Homo sapiens: one gene and its partners. The protein of the gene in region 3 interacts with the protein of the main gene of each other region in a biochemical or structural test. Each region holds a gene or a part of one and is shown on either strand. Other genes may lie near its edges. The genes, in order: MGMT, FGF2, CSNK2A2, HDAC6 and ERCC6.

Region 1 (3,691 bases), on a different chromosome or scaffold from region 3:
AGAGAAGACACATAAACCATCACCTGACTGTGGGGTGAGAGTGGTCTTTATATAGACACTCATGATGCACAAGCCAGCCCTTCGCCCCACTCTTGTTTTGAAGTGAAAGGATTTATATGGGAGGGAGGAGGTTTGAGCTGTGCAGGAGGGTCCTTGGTTGGCATGAGGATTTTGTGAACCTACGCTGTTAGCTCTGCAGGCCTGTCTTGGACATAGGTAAGTAGAAGTTGGAGACCTTGTGTTGTGGACCAAATGTTGCAAGATGTGTGTTCTGTGGCTTTTCATTAACTGCTGCATATCTGCTGGTTGGTGGACATAGTCTAGTTTTCTTTTGACTTAAAAAAATTAACAGTACAGCTTATATCGGAGGGCTGCATAGTTTGGGGGAAACTAATGAATATAGTATGGAATGTAATGAATGACTGACTTCTTCATAGAGCTATTGAAGTGATTTATGAAGAGGAAGAAATCATTTTTGTGACTTTGTTGATCTTTGAAGTATTAGAGTGGCTTTGGCAGGTGTGGATCACCCGGAAAGGAATCAAACACTGAGTCCTGCCAAGGTGCTCGGTCCCGGCAGCAAAGCCAGTCCTCAGCAGCCTGCGCTCCCGAAGCTCCTCCAGCTAAGTAACTGAATAGGCCGCCCTGGGAGCTGCCCATGCGGATGCTCTGAATGGTGAAACTTGGTTTTGACACCACAAGTTGTTTTCAGTTAAATCAGTGGCTCAGCAGCAGAGCAGGGTTCTCCAAGGAGGCCTCGTGTCCCCTTCACCCCACCTGGAGGTAGCTGTTCTAAAACCAGTAAAAAATTCTACAAAAACATTTTCTTAGGGTTGTTAAATTAGTCATAGTGTGTGTAACCATGAAAGGAATGGTGAGAGTGCAATAAATGCCTGGTGTGTTCACTCTCCTACTCCTAAAAGTTTCTTGGTAGAATAATTTCCTACCTGTGATGCTTGCGAAGTCAGCAGAGGCTCCCACCCAGCCCTGCCGCCCATTCCCAGAAGTCTGGGCTGGGGGACACCGAATGGATAGTCCACCAGCGGCGTGGCTTGTGAAAGGAGGTACTTGTTAAATCTATGTGTTTTTATTATAGACATCGTTCTGCCAGTCGCAATAATGTGTTTATGGACATTTTTCTGCAAGCACAGCGCGGGTGGCAGTTTTTACTGACAAATTGAGTCATATGCATAGAGGTTTAGAAAGCGCTTGCCTTATTGACGGATCAGGCAATTCTGGCACGGGATGTTCAGAGATATTTAGGTGGGTGAAGAGAGTGAATGAATCTCAGGGCAGAGAAGGAGATGGGGCATTATATGTTGAAATGCAATAAATAATCGCTAGTTATTTATCATTTGTTTTTAAACTTTTAGCTACATTGTACTTCCCAGTCAAGAGGACTCCGGTGGGCAGCCGGGGATATCATGTTCAGGTGTCTCTCCTGCTTGTGTGGGGTAAGAGCCACTACTGGAATGCGATTCCAGCAAGGCCTGACGAGTCACAGCCCCTTGAACCTGTTGCTCTCCGTAAAGTGGGATCTTCACAGGCAACAGTGGAGGAGCGTTTGAGGGTGACCTGGGCCCTCTGCATCAGAATTACTGTGGGTGCTGGCTAGAGAGGTCTCTCGATTGCAGGGCCCCATGGGAGACCTACAGGACCAGAACCTGGGGATGCCAGGGGATTCTGGCAGACCCTAATGCTTGAGCACCTCTAGGGAAGGCCTTAGGATCCTCTGGGAAGTAGCACTCTCCAGCCCAGGCAAGATCCGAGTCCCCCTTCCAGAAGTATCCATCGGCAGTTGGCATTGCTGCAGGTTTTCTGTGCATATGGGTCTGAGTACGGTTTTGTAACTCCTGAGAGACGTGAATCTCTTCAAATTGCAAACCCAACATGTTATTATTGCTTTTGAGTTTTCAGTTTTGTGGTTATGACAAGATGCAGATGTTACCAAAACTTTGGCGTCAGTTTTACAAACACACGCGAAGCACGGGCAACCCGTATCATATTTCACCCCTTCTTTCCTTTTGAGAGGGTTGTCTTGTTTTTAATCCCCCTCTGGGTCAAGGCATTTTCCTGGTCTCAGGTGAGGGTGCACTTTCAGAGGCACAGCTGAATACATTTTGTGGGACTGAATTGAGCTTTTCTACAGGAAGTGCCAGGCCGTGTGTGGGAGTGATGCTGTTTCCTAGCTGGGTCCCCCTGGGCAACTCTTAGCCCTCCAGGCACCTCCTCATCCATTGGGTGGGGACGATTATGCTTATTCGGTCTACCCGGGTAAGTATAGGCACACGAGACAGTAAATACATATTTTTTTAAAAGTAAAATTTCTATCCACTACATGGATAGAAATTTTAATTTGGAGCTGAGTCTCACGGAAGGATGAAACGAGAAGACGGCGAAGAACCATTTCGAGCCCTCGTTTTCCCCCCAGTCCAATCCGAATCTGTATTTTGCAGATCTGCACACACCCAAGCCCTCACTGGGGGCATGTGCACGGTGGTCAGAAGTGCACCTTCTGGGAACAGATGGGCTTCCGTTTGGACCTGCTTTACAAGTTACAATCCTGTGCCCTTGAGCAGAGTTACTTAACCTTCCAAGGCCAGATTTCTCCAAAAGCAGGGCCAGGGACAGTTCCCATCCAGAAGGAGGCCTGGCGCTGGGGAGGCCTGAATGAAGGCGGTTGGTGTTTGCGGATGCAGAGTCGCTCTGTTTTGGTGGAGGCAGGACTGGAGGTCGGGATCACTTGGCCACATTTGCCACCTCTGGTGCGTCTGAGGTCACAGTGCATTGTCTGTGTGCAGCATAAGGTAGTTCCCTATTCATTTACTAGGTCCCTGAAGTCCTTTTGTCTGTAAAGAGGCTACTGGCTCTGCCACCTGCTTCTGTCTTTTCACAGTAGACATTCTCGACGTGGCAGCATTCTAAAGGTTCAGGTGTGCCACATCGGCCTAGAGTGGGCAGGTGGGCTTCATGTGTGCTCCTAGGGGCACTTGGCAGTTGCTGATAGCCCGAGACACTGGGAGCCTTGACATTATTCATCTGTTATATTGAAAGAACTTCCCAAAGGACGGACACAGGATCTGACACGATGGCAGTGGCCAGGAACCAGCAGTGACACCAGCATGTGACAGTATTTTCCCATGTGTGACGGCCGTTTAGATCACAGCAGTGAGGGGTAACGCAGGTCCGCTGGGTAAACTTGGTCAAAAATGGGAAGTCTGCAGCATTTCGTGTGTTTGTGGAAATGGGCCTTATTTTTATTTGGGGTGTCTCCTTAATCTCCTGTCATGGTTCAGCTCACCCTGGTGGTTATTCTGGGCGTGCTGCGCTTGTTGCCTTGTACAGACCAACTTAGGAAAGGCTCACCACCACCCCATGAAGGAGAAGGCGCTGTGAGTGTCTTTATTTTGCATATGAGGAACCCGGGCCTCGGAGAGTTTGAGTGACTTGCACAGGTCTCCTGGGATAGAGGTAGAGTTTTGTTTTCAACCCAGATTTATTTGATAACCAAGTGCAGGCTCATAACCACTTGTGCCAGGCTGGCTTTGCAACGATGAGCCTGAGAAGCTGTTAGAAGTCCTTTAAGGGGCAAGACAGGGTGTAAACAGACACAGACCTGTTTATGTAGCTAATGTTTTCTGAACATCAATGTGACCAAGTGTTGTCTTTAGCATTGTGGGAAAAGCAATTC
Region 2 (3,144 bases), on a different chromosome or scaffold from region 3:
ATCTTGTCAAGACAAAGACTGCATAGTTTCTGGAGAAATAAACCTTCTGGGAATATTTCCAAATGGAATCTAGAAGACAGTGCATTGATATAGAGGTATATTTACAGATATATTTCTACATTAATAAAGTAAAGCATAATATCCTTTATAAATTAATGTCAAGCCTAGCCCAGACACTGAAAGCCTGAATTCTGTACCCACATAATCAACAGTCTATGGAAACTCTGGGAACCATGCCACTGGTCTCCAACCTAGCATAGTTGAGAAATGACACATTCTTTTAAGAAGCATTCATCCAGGAAATGAGTGTGTCACAAAGCAAACCAGTAAAAGGACCATAACTTATTTTATGAATGAAGAATATAGGGTACTAGCCAAAGGTACAGCTCCCTTATGAGTATGTTATAATTTCTCATTCTTTTCTTTTATCACGTGATGGATAGATAGAACTCTAACAGGAAGAAAAGTAATCATGTCAGCCATAAGAATATTGTCCATGTCATCTCATAATTGTTTTTAATCCATTTTTCTATATTTATCCCTATTCCAAGATCAGATCTTTCCACCTGCCCCTCCCCAACAAAAAAAAAGAAAAAAGAATTCATAGACAAGAAGACACAAAGAAATGGGAGACAAGAAAACACAAACTAATCAATTTTATTCATACTACTCATGAAAAGCAATTACATTTTTACATAAAATCATTAACACATACAATAGAAATAATAAGAGTAATACATCTGATTAGAAATACAATATAGGAAATAGATTTTAAAATAGCATATTTTAGTGATGAAATTTATATTTTCTACTTATTTATAGCAGCATCTGTAAGATTCTTCTATCTGTTCATAGTTAACTAGCAGCAAAATATTTTAAATTACAGAAATTCAGTAGATGTTTCCCTCCAATGTTTCATTCATACAGAATGTATCACGTTAACCAAACAAAACCACTTATATTTCCTGAAGAGAAAAGGTGGGAAAAGATTTCATCAGTTACCAGCTCCCCCAAAAAAAGAAGAAACGAGGGAGAAAGGATGGAAGCTAGAAAAATTTTGCATGCAATTACTAAAAAATATATTCTCAACCACTTTGACCAATTATAGGTGGATTTTGTGAAATCTACATATGTGTGTGTTAGTGAAAGTTATGTTAACTTTATTTTCTGACTTTATACTGCAGTTGAAAAATATGTGGAAGTTTCCAGGAGGCCTGTCAGAGCCTGAAGAAGATATTGGTGTGTATCTTTTATATTTTTAATTGGCTTAAAAATGTTGAGGAAATTAATGTGTTTACTTTCTTGCTTTATAGCTAAGAATAAAAATTTAAATTTTCCAATTTGTTCCGACTGAGTCTGAACATTTCAGAAATTACCTCAGAGCTGATATAATTAGCAGCATAATTTCTAATATTACAGTTTATTCCATTAGTAGAAATAATATCATTAGGAACATACCACCTATTCTTCTGTTTATGACTGCTTCTGGATTAATCTGTCTGAAAATGAGAAGCTTTGGATATACATCAGTAAAGTTTAGCATTAAAGGTTATTTTGGATACGACTAATATTGTTGTTGGAATTAAACTATGAGAAAACAAATTCCTGACCATTCCATCACAGAGGATGAATAGTAGCCTTTAAATGAACTTTGAAATAAATATAATAAAGTCAGTTATAAAGCAGTGATTATATAATTCTTCACTTTATGAAAATTGTATCTACTATTTATTTTTAATAGTCAGGTAGTCAAAACATAGTAAAATGTCATATAAGAAAGTCTCAACTGAGAAATAATCCCCTAACACAACTTACTGAGCTCAGTATTTAAGACAAGGAAATATAAAATAAGCTAAGAATTATTTATGTCACTGATTTACAGGAAATCGAAAAATAGAAACCAAATTTTCCTACCTATTCCTTAAACTATTGGATCAAATTCAATGTGTATCATGACAAATCAATGTATTTGTTTGATACCAATATTATTTCTCCATGACCTTTTCCTTAATATGCATGTCCCCTATTCTATTTAGCCAACAATGATATTAAGGCAATTTTCTAAATTGTCTTTAAATATTTTATTTAAAAATGTCCATGTACTTAAAGCTTGATTTTTAAAACTTTTACACAAATCAAAATACCATACATACATTATATAGCCAACTCGTAACAATCCATCAGAAAATGGATTGCATTAAGATATATCTCTAGCCAATCTTGGTTTCAGGTACTTATTGACCTTTTGCTTAGTTTATGCTTATTCTTCTGTTGATATAAAAGATGATTTTGTAGTGGTGTGAATGCTGAAAGAGAAGGCCATTTGTTCTACAGCCTAATTCTCTCACACTATCCACTGGTGCCACGTGAGAGCAGAGCATGTGAGCTAATTAAGCTTATGTTTTGCAGCCTTACCCAATCTATATTGGGCAAAAAGCAGTCTGCAGGTTTGCAAGGCTTCCTCTCTCCTGCATCTTGCCTTTTCAAATAAATTGATTTTTTTCATGTGAACTCTTATGGGTCCTCTGAATTTCAGCTGTACTTACTTGTAGATGTAATTGAAGAAAAACACATTTCCAAGCCAAATATATATAATTTCAGGCCTAAGTATACTCCAGAATCCTTCTTAAAGTCCAGATGATTAAAAATTCACTACCTTTTTTTCTTTAAAAAAAAAAAAAGTGCTTGTGGTTGTCACAACAACTCACCTACCCAGAGATCATATATGCCTCAGTCATGTGGAATTAAGAAGAAAAAAACTGCCGTTGGCATTAGCCATACTTCCTAAGCTTAGTGTAAATTAAAGCTTTGCCTGAAAATTCATAAAACCCTGAAAGCAGCTAGAAATGAAAACTGACAGTAGAGGTCTGAAAGACTATGTCTATATGAAGGCATTTCTAACTCAACATAAAACAAAAGATATTCTTAATGATGAAGCTGAATCATCTAAGAATTACTGAAATTATTTAAACTCTGTATTTAGGAAAACATGCAATGTACTTTAGGAATACTGCCATCACAAACAGTTAAACATTTATATTGGCTCAAACAGTAAACCCTAGTTAACTGGGAAACACATTTGTTTGAACTCCTTCATTCTTTCATAATACTAGGTAAATGAAGAATTGTTATCCATAGTGTTTT
Region 3 (2,891 bases):
GGGACCACATGAGCACACAAGAAGCCAAAGTTTGTCAGTGATCTTAATAAATTAAGACTGAGTAACATCCTGCCTTTAGAAAAAAATAACCCCGAGGTGGAGACCAGGGCAGGGGAGGTGGCGGAGAAGCATCGGGCCAGATCAACCGTTAATAACATGCTTCTGAGCTATGTGGATGTATAAATGAAAACACCCCCAACTAGGTATTGTAGAGGCTGGAAAAAGATGTGATGGGATTATACAGGTGATGCATATTTTTGTTTTGAGACTCAACAATGTGCTACAAATGTGATACTTAACCCTGAACTGCATGTATTGGGGATTGTTTTTTAAAAAGAAAAAAAACAACTTTGAATCAATAAATTAACAGTTTTTCACTTGCTGGCTCTTCTTGCTGTAAATGGTGACTAAGAGGTTGGGACAGAAATCTTGACAACTAGTGGAAAACTTGGATAATCTTCAAGGACCATGGAGCCTTCTGTTTCCTTCTGTTTGCAGAAAAGCAACACTGCCTGGGTTGTGATCCTTTACAAGTGACTACTTCAGACACAATTGGCCACCTCTTTGTATCACTGGATGACTGATGTATGATTTATGTGCTGCTGCCCTTAGAGGGAAGAAAAATGCCATGTTAAATCCTGTTTTCTTAAATAAAAATGTTGACAATAACCAGCCTTCCCAAGTGGGAGACAAACCATTGCTATGAGGACCTTAACTTGTATTTCCTGTCTCTTTGGGGGAGAGGGGAGGGATAAACCTTGAATTGCAAAGATGTGTGTTACACCTTGATGTGAAAACTTTCCTTTGGCAGAAGTGGGGCTAGAGTGGTGTCCTGTTGGGAGTGTTCCGTTTTTATGTACTTGCTTCTGAGTCGCGCCACTCAGACACCTGCCTCTTGGGATTGACTGTTTTAGTGCATGACTTTAACCTTGTGGCCTGGTGCTCTGCATTTGTGAAACACTCTCCCTAGCCCCATTCCTTGCAGCACATGCTATTATTTGGCAGGTGGTGGTATCTTTAATTAATGTGCTTTCTTTAATTAGTGTGCTTTCTTCTCACTGAGCCTCTGAAGTTGGGTGCTTGGAATCAGCTGAAGTGTTTAAAGGCAAATATAGTCATTTCTTTCTTAACCTCATGCACCATGCAGCCCTTCTCAAATCAAATACTACGCAGTGGAACCCTTCCTTTACCCAAAGAAAGTTTTCATGAAATGATTTTGTGTGTGTGACAGCTTCCCAGGTGCATAGTCCTTCCTCAGTACTGTAGTGCTGTTCTGGGAGGCACTGCTTCTAGAATTCCACTGCCGGCATCTCACCACCCACTTGCTATGCTGGACCTGGAAGGAGAAATGAGGTTTTCAGGCCATGCCAGGCAGCTAGCTGTTTCCAGGGGAGAGTTAAAAATATTTGAGCTCACTTACTGCTCTTTGTTTATTAGTGGACTCAGCCCTTTTTCTGAGTAAATACAGACCCCGTCTTAGTCCTAAGACACCTCAGATAATCAGGTCAGGTCTGAGGGGGACCTAGAGCTGACTGCTGAATTTGTAGCTTGACTGGCACAGAATGGTCAAGAGGCTCTGAGGCTTCTCCATCAGCACCCTGGACCCGAGGGATGGGGTAGAGTGGAAGACCTGGTCACAACACACGTGGTGCCCAGAGCACCCGTCCTGTGACAGAAGGCCGTGCTAGAGACCATCTCTGTCATGATAATCAGAAGAGGAAGGCAGAGGGTACTGTTGGAAACCTGAACTCAGCGAGTTCTCACAGGGTTCTCCACCAAGTGGCATGGGAGGGCCGAGCTTGCATTCTAGCACAGGCCCTCCTACACGTGGAGGCCTCCCCTCGCCCGCTCAGGTTGATTAATGACGTCTTTCCCTCCTCCCGTCTCTTTCCCCAGGTCTGTTGCGGTTCTCCCACTTTTCCATAAGCAGAACAAGAACCAAATCAAACGTCTTAACGCGTATAGAGAGATCACGTTCCGTGAGCAGACACAAAACGGTGGCAGGTTTGGCGAGCACGAACTAGACCAAGCGAAGGGCAGCCCACCACCGTATATCAAACCTCACTTCCGAATGTAAAAGGCTCACTTGCCTTTGGCTTCCTGTTGACTTCTTCCCGACCCAGAAAGCATGGGGAATGTGAAGGGTATGCAGAATGTTGTTGGTTACTGTTGCTCCCCGAGCCCCTCGACTCGTCCCGTGGCCGCCTGTTTTTCCAGCAAACCACGCTAACTAGCTGACCACAGACTCCACAGTGGGGGGACGGGCGCAGTATGTGGCATGGCGGCAGTTACATATTATTATTTTAAAAGTATATATTATTGAATAAAAGGTTTTAAAAGAAACGTATGGAGAGTTTTCAGTATGGAAAGGGCCGTGAACTGAGGCCTGTGACTCAGGATGAGACAAAAGCGCATTCGTGCCAGGTTCTAACCAGACGAAGCAGGGGAGGTCCCTGGGACAAGGTGGGCCAGTTTTCATTTTTGTTTTTAAACAGTCTTGCTCTGTCATGGAGGCTGGAGTGCAGTGGCGCAACCATAGCTCACTACAGCCTCGGCCTCCTGGCCTCAAGTGATCCTCCTGCTTCAGCCTCCTGAGTAGCTGGGATTACAGGTGCATGCCACCACACCTGACAAGTTTTCTTAAGTTTTTTTTTTGTAGAAATGGTCTTGCCACGTGGCCCAGGCTGGTCTCAAACTCCTGACTCAAGTGATCCTCTTTCCTAGTCCCCCTAAAGTGCTGGGTCTACATAGAGGTGTGAGCCACCACACTCAGCCAAGGAGGGCCCGTTTGTAAGGACTCTCTTCCAGAGCTGAGTGGTGTTAAGAGGTACACAGTGAACCAGTCCTAGGAATGGGGACAATATGGATGGCTGAAGTAGACTCAGCCAGGA
Region 4 (3,691 bases), on a different chromosome or scaffold from region 3:
AATATTTGTGGGTCAAATCCCGTCTCTCCCAGTTCTTCTCTGTGTGACCTCTTAACGTATAAGCCTCAGTCCCCCTATCTGTAAAATAGGGAACCCAACAGTCCCTGCCTCAGAGTGAAATTAGGAGAGATGGCAGACACACAAAAGTAGCACAGATCCTGATCCCAGGATAGGCCCCATGAATGTGAATGCCTTTTCCTCCTTCTGGACCCCTTCTGGCTGGGCCTGTAAGGGTGGGAGGTGGCTGGGAGTCTAGCACCTAGGTGGGAGTCGGGGTATACCTGGGGTCCTGGTCGAAGGTGAACTGTGTTCCTTGACCGTGGTGCACATCCCAATCTACGATAAGGACCCTAGGAGCAGCAGAGAGAGGGGACTCTGTGCAAGGAGATCAAGGTGAATCTGGGGGAAGAGCCCAGACCAGGACACCCCACCCCATGCCACCCCCATCACATCTGCCCTCTGTTGCTGACCTCCGGATGCGGTGTTTCTGTTGAGCATAGCGGGCTGCCACAGCCACGTGGTTGAACATGCAATAGCCATCCATAAGACTGTGCTGGGCGTGATGTCCAGGAGGCCTGGGCAAGACAAGGAAATAACAGCTTGGAGTATGTGAGGGGTCCTCCTCTGCAGAGACAGACTGTCCCCTGCTCTCTAATCCTGGACCACCAATTCCTTTAATGCTGATGCCTAAAAATCTGCCGGGAACTGAGTAATGGAGGCCCTCAAACTCTCACCCCCTGCCAATCTACCCCTCTGTCTCCAAAGGAGATTTGAAAATGTTCACTAAAATGATAAAGGCCGGGTGCGGTGGCTCAGGCCTGTAATCCCAGCACTTTGGGAGGCCGAGGTGGGTGGACCACGAGGTCAAGAGATCAAGACCATCCTGGCCAACACGGTGAAACCCCGTCTCTACTAAAAATACAAAAAATTAGCTGGGTGTGGTGGCGGGCGACTGTAGTCCCAGCTACTTGGGAGGCTGAGGCAGGAGAATCACTTGAACCTGGGAGGCAGAGGTTGCAGTGAGCCAAGATTGCATCACTGCACTCCAGCCTGGTGACAGAGCGAGACTCCGTCTCAAAATAAATAAATAAATAAAAATAAAAATAAAATGATCAACGCATTCATTCTCATACCCAGTCATTCTGCTGCAGGAACTTAGCCCACAACCTGTGTTTTAAAAAGGGTGAAGTAACATTTTTATTTTATGTTAGTGTAAAATAAAATTTTATTTTTATAAAGGTACTAGCATATTTGCTGTAGCATTTTTTTAAAACAGCAAATGACTGGGGAGAACCAAAATGCCCATTAGTCGGGGACTGATTAACATAGAGTGCATTTACACAATGGTGTTCTACCGGGCTCCAAGATACATACTGTTAGAGAAAGGTTTCCAAGATGTGTAAGTGAAAAGATGGTACGAAGGGAGTATGTCATGTTACTACCATTTGTGGTTAAAAACAGGGGAGGGAGGAGAAAGCTTTTGCATTTCATCAGTTCTGGGATGCCAATGATGATAAGATGTACCATGATTTTACATGCCAAAAACGAAGCAGAAAATACTGCCAATGGAATTCTGAGATGTCACTGTTTGTAAGATGCATCTGGATTTCAAGATGTTACAAATATGAAAAAATGTACACCTTAGAATCAATGAAATATGGTATTTATTTCTTGAATAAGACTTTGTGGGAGGACACATGAGTCAGTGGTTCCAATGACTACCTCCCATGAGAGGAGGCAGGTGTCTGGGTGACAAGGATGGGAGACAGATTTTTAATTATATTCTCTTTTTTACCTTTGGATTCTTGAATCACATGAATATATTACCCATATCAATACATTTTACACTTGAAGGAAGGACTTTAAAACAATGTAAAAAGTCAAATGCTGTAGAGTCCTACCTAATGATGGCCATGCCATTCCGGATCTCAGCCCCCAGGACCGCATCCACCAGCCTGAGGACAGAGCCTGAGGCCAGGCAGGCACAGGAGTATGAGTTCTGGAGAGACAGTGGGGAGCCAGAAAGGGAGTAAGGGAGAGAACAGCCCTATCCACTCAGCTGCTTCCCCCAGGGTGGGGTGGGCATAGGGATGGGGACCCCAAGATTGCCACCATTCCCTGCCCGCAGAGTTCTCATCCATACCGGATGCAGATAAACTGAGTCGTAGGTGTCTGCTAGGACACGGAGTTCTCCCTCATTCATGTACTGGGTTGTTTCCATCAGATCAATATATTCTAGGCTAGACACAGATGGGAGATGAGATTCAGGGCCCTGTCTCTTCCCCAACTGAGCTGTCCATACACCAACCCCCTGGTCAAATTAGGGCTTGGCTCCCCCAACTGTCAACCTGAAGGAATAGCCAGGATATAAGACACATTCTGTTTCTTCCCTAGCCCGCCTCAGTTCAGGTAATGTTCTCTGCTCCCCTGCAGTAGCCACACCAAATCCTACTTTCAGGCCTTTGGCCACACTGGTTCAGCTGTCTGTTCTTCCCTTCCCTCAGTCACCCTCTTCATCTGACTCACTCTTTTTCTCCTCTTAAAGTTCAGCTCAGATACCTGCTCTGGAAGCTAGCTTTCCTCAAGCCACATAGCACTAGGCCTCTAAATCTGGAAGCCCCTGGGGGAACCCCGATCACTCTGTCCACACATCCACCATCTATTCACACAATCAGATCATGATAACAGTAATAGCTCATCATGGGCTGATTATATATCAGGCCCTGTTCTAAGCACCTGACACACATCAAACTCTCCTGAGGAACTTATGTTTACTGGTCCCCTTGTTACAGGCGATGACACAGATTCAGAAAGGCTCAGCGACTTGCCCAAGGCTGGCTGCAGAGACCATGACATTGCTTCCCAAAGCGTTTAGCTTGCCCTGGTTTGTCCAGGGCAGGCTCCTCCCCATCCCTACAAGGCTCCCAAGCCTTCACCTGTGAACCAACATCAGCTCTTCCTTTTCAGCAAACCGGGCCTGGGGAGAGATGAGGAATAAAGTGGGGTAAAGGGTTAAGGCATGGGCTGCACCCAGGTCAGGTCAGCTCCCTGCCCTTCACCCAGAGTGTTGGCTTGGGGGCCTTACCTGAAAGGACACGCAGCGATCTAGGAGGCCCTCCTGGATCAGTTGCTCCTTGATGGCATGGAGCCGCTCAGGGCCTTCCGGGAAGCTGGGGAGATGGAGTCACAGTCACAGATGCATGAGGACACTGGGGAGCTCCACATCTGTTCTCTCCACATCTCCCCATCCACCCTTCCACAGCTGCTTACCCCAAAACTGTGGTGTCAGTCCTGCCTCCCATCAGCTCTGGTGTGTGACCCTCTCCTCACCACTGCCACTGCTATTACCATACCCTCCCGCCTGGGCTGTGGCGGCATCTCCTCGGCCTCCCTGCTTCGACCCTCGCCACCTCAACGGTCCTTTCTGTGCATAGCAGCTAGACACTGGTTAAAACCCTAATCAGTTCATGTCCCTTCGAGGCTCCCATCCCATTCTGAGTAAAAGCCAAAGTATTACCCATGCCCAGAAGGCCCTAAACAATCTGTCCTCCATCACCTCTCTGACCCCATCTCCTACCCCTCCCTCTTTCCTTTGCTTCGCTTCACCTACACTGGTCTCTTCCCTGGTTCTCAGTTGAACCAAATACTCTTCAGCCAGCCCTAGAACTTTACTCTAGCTGGCCCCCCCACC
Region 5 (3,691 bases), on a different chromosome or scaffold from region 3:
GCAAGTTTAATGAAAAACTGGGTATCATTGGCCTGCAAGAATTGTAGATTTTAGAATATGGATTCCTTCCTATTAAGCCTTAGGTCTTTTGGTATTTTGGTTATGTGGTAATTTTGCCAGAGATGAATTTCAACTAATGAAAGAGGGATACTTTCTGGTGACTTTACACTTATGGTGTAATGTCTTCAAGTCAGTTAACTTCACATATCTAACACAGTGCTGCTGTCCAATAGACCTTTTTGCAGTGATGAAAATGTTCTCTGTGTTGCCCATTATAGTAGCCATTAGTCACGTGTAGCTCTTGAGCACTTGAAAAAGGGCAAATGCAACTGTGGAACTGAGTTTTTAACTTAATGTAATTTAAATTTAAATAGCTGCAGGTGACTGGTAACTGCCATGCTGGGCAGCATAGAGCTGACATTTATGTTTTTCCTTTTTAGGTACATGGTGATCCCTGTTTTTGGTTTTACTGTCTCTTGAATTTAAGTCCATCTGAATGTTGGTTTTAGCAATGACGTGAGAACTTCGGAGCTTGCTTCCTCATGGACGACTACTCAGCTGATAAGGAAACACAGCTAAACTTGACTATTTATAACTGTATTTATACAGTAATAAGCCTATCTTTGGATGGCAGAGAGTATATTTATAGTGAAATATTTTGGGGAAAAGTTACTGAGAAGTTGTCTTTTTGAACAGGAATATATTAAATATAGCATGATGCTATAATTTTATTCTGTCCTTCATATGTAACATGCTTTAGTACATGGATGATTCTTTTTTTATATGAGTTATTTGTAGCTGCCTAATATTTCTTGAAAGAGTGAGCATTTCTTTTGTACCCTCGGAAAGTTTCATGCTAGTGCGAAACGCATTGCTATTGTTCTTTCAGAGCCGGGGCCATCCAGTCTTGGCAGCATGCTCATGCCTGTCCAGGAGACTGCCTGGGAAGAGCTCATCCGCACTGGCCAGATGACACCTTTTGGTACCCAGATCCCTCAGAAACAGGAGAAAAAGCCCAGAAAAATCATGCTTAATGAAGCATCAGGCTTCGAAAAGTATTTGGCAGATCAAGCAAAACTGTCTTTTGAAAGGAAGAAGCAAGGTTGTAATAAAAGAGCAGCTAGAAAAGCTCCAGCCCCAGTCACGCCTCCAGCCCCAGTGCAAAATAAAAACAAACCAAACAAGAAAGCCAGAGTTCTGTCCAAAAAAGAGGAGCGTTTGAAAAAGCACATCAAGAAACTCCAGAAGAGGGCTTTGCAGTTCCAGGGGAAAGTGGGATTGCCAAAGGCAAGGAGACCTTGGGAGTCAGACATGAGGCCAGAGGCAGAGGGAGACTCTGAGGGTGAAGAGTCTGAGTATTTCCCCACAGAGGAGGAGGAAGAGGAGGAAGATGACGAGGTGGAGGGGGCAGAGGCGGACCTGTCTGGAGATGGTACTGACTATGAGCTGAAGCCTCTGCCCAAGGGCGGGAAACGGCAGAAGAAAGTGCCAGTGCAGGAGATTGATGATGACTTTTTCCCAAGTTCTGGGGAAGAAGCTGAAGCTGCTTCTGTAGGAGAAGGAGGAGGAGGAGGTCGGAAAGTGGGAAGATACCGAGATGATGGAGATGAAGATTATTATAAGCAGCGGTTAAGGTCGGTCTGTGGGGATTATAAATACATTGTACTGTTTGCTTTATCTTAGGTGACAGGTTTATTAATATGTAAGCATTCTAGATCCAGCTTAATATATTAGACCCCCCCGATTATACAGAGGTTGGATTTCTGCAGCCTTAACCTGCTAGAAGCAGTGGGGCCCCTGAGTCCTTAATGATGCTGGCCCCAAATGCATGTACTTCTAGGTCTTTAGTTGGATTTGGAGGCAAGTCTAAGATGAAAAACTTAAGGGAAGGCTGGGGCAAGAGGCATACAGAGGGCTGAGTGTGAGCTGTGTCGCCTTTATACCGACAGTCACCCTAGAATGAGTATCAGGAAAAAGAAAAGGGTGAATTAATGCATACTGGATAGGGGTTTCTGTTTTCCCTTTTGAAGCAGGAAAGTAATTTTAGAGAACTTTTCTTCAAAAAAGAGCTGAAACTTAAGCTTTGGCATAGAAAGAATAAGCTTGCTTTTGTAAATCCTTCCTTTGTCTTGAGAAAATAGTCATCTGCATAATTATAAGCCACCATCATGCAAAAAGTGTACTTTGTATGCACAGCATACCTTTCTTTTCACTGTTGTTTTTTATGTTAGAGACTGACTTTGGCTTTTAGCTCCATGACATTGTCATTGTATAAAGCAAGCACCATAAAAGGGAAGGTGAACATGTGAAACATGAAGTCTGAATTGCATATTGCCACACGTTTTCTGAGAGCCAGGAAAAATAATCTGTATTGCAGGCCTCCCCATGGTGGCCCACTGAACACTGTGCTACTGCCGCGCATTTCAAGTCTCCTTGACTTAGAGCTCACTTAGCTCTAAGGAAGTCAAAGGGAAAAAGGAACCTTATTACTTTTAAAATACTTGATAGTGGGATGGCTTTTTCCCAATCCTCAACAGTTTTTTCTTATTTCTCAAGGTGAAGAGACCTAGTTTGTTGTATTTATTGGCCTTTGTGAGTGAAGGTTGACCTGGTGTTTTTTCTTGTTACTTAGAACTGCTCATTAACCCCCGTCCAGACACTACAGACATTCCATAACCTTTCCGAAATAGATGTGTCAATTCTTTTAAACAGTAATTTGAGGACCTGTGACTTAAATCCTGTTCTTTAGAGTTGCGGCACTCACATTCTAGTAGCACCTTATGTAGTAATGCACAGATGAGGGCTGGCTTATATTTGTCATCCCTCAGCACAGCTTTCGTTTCTGTGCACGTTTATTACCTGTGAAGTTGTTTGAGGAATGTTGCCCAGTACTCTTGAACAGTGAGCGGTGTCAGACTTTTTCTTAACTACTGCAAGGAATTAATAAAAGTGTTAATCTCAACATATTGATTATAAATGGAGCAATATATATTTTTCCAATTAAATTGGGTCAATATTAAATATGTTTAAAATATATCAGTATTTTGATCAAGAGCAATTTATTTTGATTGAATTTTAAATGTGGGTTTAGTTAATTTGATGGCAATAAGTTTTTCTTAATAATGTTAAGATTGTAAAACAATTTATTATTTCCAGAGCCAATATTTTGCTAAAGCTACAGTGAAATCTCAAATGAATTTCAGAAATATCAATAACTCTTAATTGCCACCAAAATACGATAGCTCTTAACATTTTATAGCTACAGTTATTAAGGCTGTTAAACTGCAGATATCCACATTGAAATATTTGTTATTACATCTCCTTTGGTGCTGTTTGGTTTGGGGGATGAAAGAAAATAAAATGCTCAGGATTGAGAAGCATATTAGAACTGCCAGTCTCTCTATATTTTGTTACTCATTGCTGATCTTTGTAGACTAATTGAAATGGTAATGCTATTCCCTTGAGAAACAGAAAGACCTTTAGGGTTGCTTGTCTTAGCAGTGGTTTGACGATGGATGATTAGAATAAAGTCATAGAGTTTACAACATAGAAAATTAGTTTTTTTTTAGTGGTTAGAATTTAGGAGTAGTTCCCAGGGTAGGCACCCTTTGCTGAACTTAACACCTTTTACTGAGGGTATAGCCTGTTAATTATAATGCTCTTTTCAACTCTAGGAAGTGAGAGTGGGTGA

What was found.
Region 1: of the proteins of CSNK2A2 (region 3) and MGMT, one has a biochemical effect on the other in vitro, tested with the Homo sapiens proteins (one study listed by BioGRID).
Region 2: the proteins of CSNK2A2 (region 3) and FGF2 form a complex in vitro, tested with the Homo sapiens proteins (one study listed by BioGRID).
Region 4: the proteins of CSNK2A2 (region 3) and HDAC6 form a complex in vitro, tested with the Homo sapiens proteins (one study listed by BioGRID).
Region 5: the proteins of CSNK2A2 (region 3) and ERCC6 form a complex in vitro, tested with the Homo sapiens proteins (one large-scale study listed by BioGRID).

The regions. Positions count from the first base shown.
Region 1 is NC_000010.11:129,470,054-129,473,744, forward strand, and holds part of MGMT (methylated-DNA--protein-cysteine methyltransferase), read left to right. Parts: intron 1-3,691. UniProt on the Homo sapiens protein: Involved in the cellular defense against the biological effects of O6-methylguanine (O6-MeG) and O4-methylthymine (O4-MeT) in DNA. Repairs the methylated nucleobase in DNA by stoichiometrically transferring the methyl group to a cysteine residue in the enzyme.
Region 2 is NC_000004.12:122,895,719-122,898,862, reverse strand, and holds the end of FGF2 (fibroblast growth factor 2 isoform 18 kDa), read right to left. Parts: 3' UTR 1,240-3,144; coding exon of another isoform or gene 1,185-1,239; 3' UTR 627-1,184; downstream 1-626. Other genes in the region: NUDT6 (nucleoside diphosphate-linked moiety X motif 6), read left to right, coding at 1,185-1,239. UniProt on the Homo sapiens protein: Acts as a ligand for FGFR1, FGFR2, FGFR3 and FGFR4. Also acts as an integrin ligand which is required for FGF2 signaling. Binds to integrin ITGAV:ITGB3.
Region 3 is NC_000016.10:58,157,359-58,160,249, reverse strand, and holds the end of CSNK2A2 (casein kinase II subunit alpha'), read left to right. Parts: exon of another isoform or gene 1-1,896; 3' UTR 1,897-2,343; downstream 2,344-2,891.
Region 4 is NC_000023.11:48,804,917-48,808,607, reverse strand, and holds part of HDAC6 (protein deacetylase HDAC6), read right to left. Parts: intron 3,171-3,691; coding exon 3,086-3,170; intron 2,978-3,085; coding exon 2,937-2,977; coding exon of another isoform or gene 2,933-2,936; exon of another isoform or gene 2,241-2,932; coding exon 2,144-2,240; exon of another isoform or gene 2,000-2,143; coding exon 1,902-1,999; exon of another isoform or gene 1,648-1,901; intron 576-1,647; coding exon 471-575; intron 351-470; coding exon 282-350; intron 1-281.
Region 5 is NC_000010.11:49,521,976-49,525,666, reverse strand, and holds part of ERCC6 (DNA excision repair protein ERCC-6), read left to right. Parts: intron 1-889; coding exon 890-1,634; intron 1,635-3,691. UniProt on the Homo sapiens protein: Involved in repair of DNA damage following UV irradiation, acting either in the absence of ERCC6 or synergistically with ERCC6. Involved in the regulation of gene expression.